Regions from separate parts of the Homo sapiens genome. Here region 2 is linked to region 1. Evidence: fine-mapped expression QTL. A gene starts in region 1. The other region holds a variant in brackets. All regions are shown on one strand. Distances are between the middles of the regions.

The links. PIP is the estimated chance that this variant, and not a neighbour inherited with it, causes the effect.
Region 2: its variant is fine-mapped to the expression of CDRT4 in visceral fat (GTEx, PIP above 0.99). The same link has a PIP of 0.9 or more in unexposed skin.

The regions. Positions count from the first base shown.
Region 1 is chr17:15,464,695-15,469,868 of GRCh38, forward strand. CDRT4 (CMT1A duplicated region transcript 4) reads right to left here and starts at 2,927. Exons shown (of 4, transcript NM_001204477.2): 1 at 2,766-2,927. All of the region lies in intron 4 of TVP23C-CDRT4 (TVP23C-CDRT4 readthrough), which reads right to left.
Region 2 is chr17:15,499,721-15,504,894 of GRCh38, forward strand. The region is part of intron 4 of TVP23C-CDRT4 (TVP23C-CDRT4 readthrough); the gene reads right to left. It also overlaps a transcript of TVP23C not described here. Among named protein-coding and RNA genes, the nearest start is that of CDRT3, 31 kb to the left of the region's middle. The variant T/C (reference allele first, on the strand shown) is at 2,719.

The DNA.
Region 1 (5,174 bases):
CCCCTCCTCTAAACAATTCTTCCATTGACCCCCAAGCTTCCGTTACTTGTATTTTGCTCCTTTTCTCTGCCAAAATCCCCCAGCGAATGGCCCATACCAGCGGTTGCTCTTTCACTCACTCCAGCCTGGCATCCACACTCGCAGCTCTGCTGACAGCCAGCACAGAAAGGAACCAGCAGGGATACGGGAACAGAGGCACAGACATCAAGCAGGGTTCAAGAAAGTGCAAGTGGGTGCAACACACACACACACCAACACACAGACACACACACCAACAGACACACCAACACACAGACACACGCAATACAGACACACACAACACAGACACACACCAACACACAGACACACATAACACAGACACACACCAACACAGACACACACCAATACAGACACACACAACACAGACACACACCAACACACAGACACACCAACACACAGATACAAACACAGACACACCAACACACACACACCAACACACAGACACACAACACACATACCAACACAGACACACCAACAGACACACACCAACACACAGACACACACAACAGACACACACCAACACACACAACACACACACCAACACAAACACACACCAACACCAGACACACCAACACACAGACACACACAACACAGACATGCACAACACAGACACATACCAACACCAGACACACCAACACAGACACACATAACACACACACCAACACACACACACAACACACACCAACACAGACATACACCAGTACCAGACACACCAACACACAGACACACATAACGGAGATACACATCAACACCAGACATACAAACACAGACACACACAACACAGACCCACACCAATACCAGACACACCAACACAAACACACACAACAAAGACACTTAGGTACAAACACACACACCAACACACAGACACACATACACCAGCACAGAGATACACACCAAGACATTCATACAACACAGACACACACGCACAAAGATACACACAACACACAAAACACACAAACACACAGTCATATCACAAACACGGAGACACATATGCCTACACATGCACAGACACGCATGCTAACGCCTTCCAATATGGCAGCCAAGGGGCTCTTGCTGTGGTCAGGGAAGAGGGGGAGGGAGCCTGGCCATCCACCGTGGGGAGGACATGCAGCGCGCATCGTGAGGACTCCAGACCCCTGAGGGTGGTAGCAGCAGGAGGGCAACAGAGGATCCTAGAGTTGCTGCACCTGGGGGCAGATCCAGTTGTTACAGGGCCTGAGCATTCTACAGCTGGTGGGGAAACCCTCTTTGTGCCCTGCACAAGTGGTAAGCACTTAGAAGACATCCCTGAAGGAGGGAGAGAAAGGGAGGGAGAGGGAGGGAAAGGGAGGGGGAGGGAGGGCAGAGCCTACCAGGAAGCCTGGAGGAAGCCTGCGACCTGGGACCCAGGTCAGCTCCCTGACCCAGGCCAGTGGGTGAACTGACAAGTGACAGAGTCTGGATTTGAACCCAGGGACTCGGCTGCCCATGTTCTTAACCTGCGTCACCTATCTGCCTCTCTCATACTGACTCAATGTAGCTCAAACAAGTGTAAAGCAAGAGCTTCCAGCACAAACAGTGGGCTTCGGGCTCAGGCCTCCAGAAACACTGCCTGGGGTGGGAGCCTGGGCGCTGGGCCAGCTTCCACCCAGATGGGGAGAAGGGAAGGGCTGCCTCATCTGCAGAAACGAGTCTCTTCTGTTCTCTTCTCCCCACCCCTATCTACACCAAGGTGCATTCATGGATCGCAAGGTTTCTTACTAATTTTTTGTTTCATTCACTGGTGTCTTTTATTCCTTGTTCTAAATTACTTTTTTTAATTTTTACTTTTATAGAGACAGTCTCACTGACACCCAGGCTGGAGTGCAGTGGCACGATCATGGCTCACTGCAGCCTCAAACTCCTGGGCTCACACAGACACACACTCAATACAGACACACACCTGGACTCAAGGGGCCCTCCTGCCTCAGCCTCCAGAGTAGCTGGGACTACAGGTGCACACCAATGCCCAGCTAATTTATTTTTATTTTTATTTTTGTAGAAACGGGGTCTTGCTATGTTGCCTAGGCTGGTCTTGAGTTCTCGGCCTCAAACAATCCTCCTGCCTCAGCCTCCTTAAGTGGTGGGATTACAAGCATGATTAATTATTTTTAAATAAGTGACTTGATTATTATTGTTTTGTAAAAATCCTCTTAGTCACCTTTGTCCCTATAGGTTTCTATAGGTGCTTAATAATTTTTTAAAGGTATTTACCAGTTCTGGCTAAACATTCCTTTGGTCCTGAGCTCTGTGGAGAGGTAATGCATCTGTGGGAACATCATCACCCTCATCCCCAACCCATCACCCCCAGGGGATGGGGGGGAACGGGGGTATATTTTGTGTGTGTGTGTTTTGCTTAAGTAGAGTGGTCAGCCCTGAGTGTACAATAGAATCACCTGGCTGTCATTATAGACATACCTGAGCTCAAGCCCTCTGCAGACAAAGTAAATCAGAATCCTAGGAATGGGACGAGCTTGTTGGCAAGGGTTGGGCATCAGTACGTTTTACAAAGTCCTGAGGGGATTGGGTGACCAGGATTGGGATCCACTTAAGGGAAGTAATGCTGGGGACTCTGGGGACCCTTTAATGGCAGGATTATTCTTTGATGAAGGACCTGACCTTCTCCTGGAAGTTGAGTGTGAGCCTTTTCACTTTCACCCTCGACTTCCCTCTCTGGGGACACCCAGTGTTCTGGCCCAGACTGTTACCTGAGAAGTTTCTGTGATTCCCCATCCTTCCTGCACTATCTTGGCTGTTCCCCTGCCCGGCGTTTATATTTTGTCTCCAGCTGTCCCCTGTGCTCTCAATCCCACTTCTCTTTGGCTCTCTCTTTGCTGCAGCTAACCATCCTCTTGCCCCTGCCCCAAAGTGACCCATGAGCCAGAAGTCAGGAGTGAAGGGGGGCACTGTGACATCAGAAGTTGCCATGCACCCCCTCCTGAATCTTCTGCCCTGCTCTCTTCCTCCTCTGCAGGCTCAGCGGTCACCAGCAATGCAGTCCTCAAACACGGACATTAGAGTGATTATTCCCACCCCCAAGAGTGAACACCTACTATGTGCTGGACCCTAGACCAAACACATACACACATAAAGATACACAACACACACACATGCACACACACACACCCCAACATGCATGACCTCATTTGAGATCTCTGATCATTTCAACAAGCAGTTACTCTGGCCCAGACGCAGCCAACTACAGAGATAGACAAGACCTGTGGTCTCTTTCCTTAGTGCCAGAATCTCCTAGAAGGTCTATTAAGACAGATTGCTGGGTCCCACTCCCAGGGTCTCTGATTCAGTATATGTGGGGTGGGGCCCAAGAACTTGCCTTTCTAACAAGCTCTCAGCCTTCTTCTGAAATAAAATCCTCTTTAGATAAGCTGGAGAGAGAATGGCTGTCACTAACAGGCTGTTGAGAATTAGCCTCCTTCTCCCCAACTCCATTGACCGGCCAGTGCTTGGCAATGGAGAGAGCGAGCAGCTTCTAACCTCCCCTGTGGCCCCAACCGTGAAAAAGTCCCCAAGATGCCAGGAGGACACAGTGCAGAGCAGGCTGTAAAGTCTGGCAGTTTAATTGCAGTCATCAACTCGGGGCAGCACCAGGAGACAGGCTGGACTTGCTCTCCCTGTGTTATCATCATGCCCTGTTGACAATCCTTTGAAATGTCTCTCCCTGTGTCTGTTCCTTCTGCTCCTCTCCACTCCCCCACCACCTCTCCAATCCCAGAGTTCAACCTGTCCAGCCAGGAATGTAAAGTCCCCTCACTTCTCTGCAACCACAGCAAGCACTTGAGCTTCCTCCAAATCATACTGACTCAATCATATATTTCCCACGATCTCCTTTTCTTCATAGTTCTCTATAATCTTCAGAGAGAGGTGCATTCTAGAAAAAGGCCAGGCAGAAAACACCTGTGTTTCAGCCTCAGTTTTATCATTTAGTTGTAAGAAAACATACATCAAGTGGATCCCCAACAAAAATCTACCTCTCCTCACTGCCCACGAGTCAGTACCTAGAGCCTCAGGCAGAGCCCTCATTGCTGCGGTTCTCAAAAAGCCTTTCTCTATCCTCCCCTCTCTCCAGGCTCTAGTTCCTCTTCAACTCCAGCCCTAAACTCCCTGAATTCATTCTCGCTCTGGAGCTCCCGTGTCAGCGGAGCCATGCCTTCAACCTTTCCATGGGCCCCTATTTTGTGGCTCAGTGTCCCTGAGCCCTGAGTATCTCCATTCAGTTCTTCAAACAAGTTCTAGACAAGGGAAGGATCTGAGCAAAGTCACGGAGGTGCGGGACAGCCTGGGCGTCTGGAAATGCTACGGGAAATGCACAGGTGAGGGGGATGGGGGGGAGTTGGGGTGGGCCAGTCTGACAAGGTTCTGCTCTCTCTCCCAGCAAGTCTGGGGAAGACAGTGGACATCTTTGAGTGCACAGGCCAGGTGTGAAGTGTAGCGGATGAGCAGGGGACCTCCCCTGTGGTTCCACAAGAACCTCCAAAGACTCACCCCAGAAGTCTTCTGCAGCTTGAAGTGACTCTCTGAGCTGCTTATACCTAGCGCTGATGTGCAATGGGCCAGGGCCCGGCAGGGAGCCAGACCCTCGGACTCGAGAAAGCCATTTGAGAGTGACATCAGCCCACCACCTGCTAGTGCGCACTCACAGTGTTTCCGGAAGCCATGATGCTAATCATGTCTGTTTCTGTGTTGTCCATGGCAAGACTCCAAGCCCAGAAAAGAAAATCTGTAGCCCAAGTTATTTTCCTCCCACAGGGCTTGCCTGGCCTTTGATTGTTGGCTTTGGGGAGGTGCATTTCTCCCTCCTCTGTGGGCAGCAAATTCCCCGTGAGTCAACAGATCCTGTATCTGGGCTCACCATGGGCTTCTACTGGCACTGAGAAGGGGCAAGCTGAGCAAACATGCAATGTGACCCCAGTGCTGACCAACCCAGAGATGCCCCATGGGACTCAGGGACTTGACCTCAGTGCTTCTGGGGTCCCTCAGTGTATCTTGCTGGCCTCAGCACTGGGCTGCTTGGTAACCTCCCCACAGGCAGGTACTAAGTGCAGCCAGCCCCTTCATTCAAGGCAGAATGAATTAAAAAGCTGGGGTTCCAGAGTTGG
Region 2 (5,174 bases), 35 kb after region 1:
GCCCCCAAAGAAATTCTGGGTAGTTTTGTGTGTCTTCAACACTGCTGAGTGTTTTTTCCAGGTGGCTGGATGACAAATCTTCCTCTAGGATATGTGGGGTTGTAATTTGCCCTCAGAGATGCAGGTGCCCCAGGAGTCTCCTTTAACAAATGAAAAGCCGGTCTCTGCCACATGCCAGGATGCTTGTGAACATCACAGAGGCCACCCGAACCCTATCACAGACCTTCCCTGCTCTGGTGGCTATTAACTCTCCTTCTGAGAAAAACCTCTGAGGATCGGAGCCCACATTTTGTTCAGGGATCCAGCCTGGGCTATTGCCCCAGCTCCAGGAAAGAAGGAGCTGCATGCCTTCTCTGCTTCTATTCTGATTTTTTTTTTTTTTTTTTTTTTGAAGTGGAATCTCGCTCTGTCGCCCAGGCTGGAGTGCAGTGGCACGATCTTGGCTCACTGCAACTTCAACCTCCTGGGTTCAAGCGATTCTCCTGCTTCAGCCTCCCAAGTAGCTGGGACTACAGGTGTACGCCACCACAGTCAGCTAATTTTTGTATTTTTAGTAGAGACAGGGTTTCACCATATTGGTTAGGAGGCTGGTCTTGAACTCCTGACCTCGTGATCTGCCTCTAGGCCTCCCAAAGTGCTGGGATTACAGGTGTGAGCCACCACACCCAGCCCATTCTGATTTTTTAAAAACTGTCCCACATATCAACCCACCATGTTACCACCTGTTTTAACCAATTTGTATTGGAAGTAATGGGCAGAAAGTGTTAAGCTGTGCCGCATATTATGAAATATGACCAGCCCACCCTGGAACACTTTGCAAGGCTCTATCACCTCCACATCCTACTTAACCCTTATAGCTGTCCCAGGAGAGCCCACTCCCTCCACCATTGTATAGACACAGAACTGCTGCACAAAGAACAGAACATAAGCAATTTGGTCAAGATCACTGAAGCAACTGGGATTCGAACCTAGGACTTGCCTGACTCCAAATCCCAGCTATTAACACTTCACTCTGCCTCATCAGGGGGAGAGAAAAATTACATAAGCCAAGGAGAGGTGGTTACATGGAAAGCAAATAAAGAGGAGAAGTGAGTGATCTCAGCCATGGAAGGTTGACAATTCAGGCCATGCAATATATGCTTATTATTATGGTAGACTTCCTATTTGACCTCTTTGAACTTGTGAGATCACTTTAATTCTATAATTTACTTATTCATTCTTTCACTAAGAATTTGCTGAAAATTTATCATGTGTGAAAATGTCTTGTAAACTCTTTTTTTTTTTTTTCCCTGAGACAGAGTCTTGCTCTGTCGCCCAGAGCTGGAGTGCAATGGCGTGATCTCAGCTCACTGCAACCTCCGCCTCCCAGGTTCAAGCAATTCTCCTGCCTCAGCCTCCTGAGTAGCTGGGATTACACGCGTGCGCCACCACACCAGGCTAATTTTTGTATTTTTAGTAGACGGGGTTTCGCCATGTTGGCCAGGCTGGTCTTGGAATCCTGACCTCATGATCTGCCCACCTCGGCCCCCCAAAATGCTGGGATTACAGGTGGGAATCACCGCGCCTGGCCACAATTATTAATTTTTAAACCTGGTGAGAGATGCAAAAGATGTCTGCCCTTAAGGAATTTATAACTTGTTGAACCTAGAATACATATTTCCCTTCTTAGAACAAAAATCAAGCATCTTCTAATAAAAGTGGGAAGGTACAGGATGTAGCTAAAGCATTTCTGTCAGGGTTTTCCCACTGTCCCTTCCTGTTCATCACTGTCCCTTCCTGTTGACTCATTTCAACTTGGGATTCACTATGACCACTAGATCCTTTTCCTCTCTATTTCTCTTTAAGTCCATTCTAACCACCTGGACATTATTTAATCCCAAATTCACAATGCCCACCTTCCCAATCTTTAACTGACTTGGTGAGCTATTAACAAGAGTTCTATTTGACCCAACGACTCACGGAGGAAAGAAGAGAACTTCACATTTGTGGGACTGGCCACAATATGCACTCAGGAGCTGTAGGACTAATGGCCACTCCTCAGAGAGTCCTTGGGGTAAGTGAGGCATAACAGAGAGGCTAACTATAGTAAGTAAGTGGGCTGAGCCTGGCCTGGTTGCTCTCAGCCTTTTCCGCCACTCATTTCCATCAAAAGACTGCCTTTAGGAGCAACGGAGGTTAATGAAGCTGTCCACAATGGGGCAGCCAGCGGTAGTGCGACTGAAGTGGAAATCATGTGAGTTAGGTGAAAAAGTACAAACTGGCCTGATTCAGGGAGCTGCCACCCAGCTGGAGAACAGGTGTTACCTCTCAGTGGGCAGAGCTGCACAAGGCCAGATCCTCTCCCTTCTTAGTCACGAAGGTGCCCTCTGGCTCCAAGGGGAGGAGAGGGAACCAGACCTCACTCCCCAGGCCTCAGACCCCCCATCTCTCTCCATGTCCTTCCCGCTGTGACCTCCTTCAACGGTATAATCACTCAGCCTGTTAGGCACTAAGTAGTAAAACTGGTCAACCTTTAAAACCACTTTTCATTACGAAGGCCCAAAAAAAGATAAAAGATGAAATTTAATGGGGGGTGGGGGGGCACAAGAGGGTGATTGAAAAAAACACAGATAATTTCTGGAATTGGATCTGTTAAGCCTTACACATTAGTCCCCGCCCTCGGAAGTAAGGGCCTGTCATTCTGTAAAGGGACGCAGCCACACGCAGAGAAGGTGGAGG[T/C]CTCCACCCCTTCCCTCTTCGTCCTCGCCTAGGAGGGACCGTGGTGCCAGTAAAACAGGGACTGGCTGGCCCAGAGCCTTGGGGATCCCCTCCTTTGTCTGGAACCCTCTGGCTCACCGCATCCTTCCTCGGGGCCGCATGGCCCTGCCCCACAAAGCAGGCGTGCTGGGGGCTGCTTGGCCAGGAAAGCGGACGCTTGCAGGGACCACGCTGCTGCCTCTCTTCTGCCCTTTTCCCCTTAGTTTTACAAGTTCCCTGTTCGTTCGTTCTTTCTCTCTCTCCTCTCTCTCTCTTTCTCTCTCCTCTCTCCCGTCTCTTTCTCTCCTTCTCCGTCACTCTCTTCCCTCCCTCTCTCCTCTCTCCTCTCTCTCCTCTCTCTCTCTCTCTCTCTCTCCTGCGAGGAGCTTCAGATTTGTGGGTTGTTTTTAATGCATTCCGGATGCCAGATGAAATTTTGGCCCGGGCTCACCAGTTCCTCTGCTATTGGGACTCTCCCCACCTCCCCTCCAGGCCCAAAGCCGCAAGGAGAGAAATAGGCGGGCGGGCGCCATCTGTTGGCAGTTGCCTGGAGCCGCACGAAGAGGTGGAGAACTAAGGCGGGGCGCAGGTTTCCAGTAAAGAGCTCGATCCGTGATCCTCGTGAAAGAATTAATGTCTACCTGATGAAACTTCCTCGAGGGATGGCCCGGGCAGCGGCTCACGCCTGTTATCCCAGCGCTTTGGAAGGCGGAAGCGGGAGGATCTCTTGAGCCCAAGACTTTCAGACCAGTCTGGGCAATGTGGCGAGACCGTCTCTACAAAAAATAAAATAAAAATAAATTAGCCAGGTGTAGTGGCGCGCCTGTGGTTCCAGCTACTTGACAGGCCGAGATGGGAGGATCGCTTCAGCCCAGGAAGTCGAAGCTGCAATGAGCTGTGACCACGCCACTGCACTCCAGCCTGGGCGACAGAGCAAGACCATGATATTTCAAGAAAAGTCCTTGAGGCAAAAGGTGACCTGCTTTAGAACGCCTCAGTGCTTAGACATGAACAGTGAAGGGGACTGAAGATTGTTGGAACACGGTGCAGAACCCTCTTAGTCTCGTTTTGTTGCCTTATTATGTTCTATTTCAACTTTCAAAAAAAATTGCTGGCATTAGCATGTCGAAAAATTGGTGACATTAGAATGTCAAATTCTTTGAAGGATGGGGATTTTTGCATTCAGTTTTGTGTTCACCAAAATAAGCTAGCAGGAGATTCTGTGCAAGTTGACTTATAAGTATATGGTTTGCTGAAATCTTATGAGGAGAGGGAAATGTAAAGTAAATGAAGTGGAAATAAGTGGTTGTTATGGTTAGGAAAAGGCCATCGTAAGGCTTCATGGCTAGCATGCAGGCCACCGAAGTTCTATCCCAAACAGAAGGAAGCTCTTGTAGGATGGTGAGTTATGGTAGGGTTCTAGGAGGAGTGGGTGTCAGCCTTTTGGGAGGGGGAATGGAAGGGCTGGGAAGGGTGGGAGGAAGTGAATGAAGTTCCAAAGCCAGGAAGCTAGGCACAACCCTGTGAGTAGTACCAATACCTAAGGATGGTTTCTCAGGGACACTCAGAAAAAAGAGCCCAGTCTCCTGAGAGCAAGCATGCAGCCCTATCCCCACATTTTCCCCTGAACATGGTCCTGTCCACCAAATCAGGCCTGAGGATCCTGAAACACCTCCAGGCCCTGGGCCCTCACCCACTAGACAGCCCAGGAACCAGGAGCCTAGGCCTGAATAATGGGAAGCTCTGGTACTGGGCTTTATATTCCTGCATTTTCAACAGGAACAAGACTATGATGTGTGGGGTTTCACACCCTTTCTCCCTCCCTTTTCCTCTCAGAGCCACCTTTGTCTTTGCCAATTTGTCCCTGGGGTTTGGTGACACAGAGGCAGTGGCCAGAAAAGAGAGGCAGAATTGAAGTCGTGGTCATGGGGCTTTTGCTTCTGGACAAGGCTAAGATTTACTTGGATATGAACATAAAAATAAGGAGTTGCTGGAAGAGAAGAGCTGCGCTTTGGATGGGTTTATTAAGAGTTGAGAGCGCGGAAGATGAGGCAGCTTTGGAAATCAGCTGCAGTAGCATGAAGGATACTGAGAATCATTTTAATAAAGACAATTTTTTTTTAAGAGACAGGGTCTCGTGCTTTGGCCCAGGCTAGAGTGCAGTGGGGTGATCACAGCTCACTGAAGCCACAACTTCCTGGGCTCAAGCTGGGACTACAGGCACGCACCACCATGCCCAGCACATTTTTAAAATTTTTTTGTAGAGACAAGGTCTCACTATTTGGCCCAGCTTGGTCTCAAACCCCTAGCCTCAAATGATCCTCTCTCCTCAGCCTCCCAAAGTGCTGAGATTACAGGTGTGAGCCACTGTGCTCCACGGAGGATGAGGTTTATAAGGTGATTTCTGGTGCATCAAGAAGGTATTTTCCTCCCCTCCC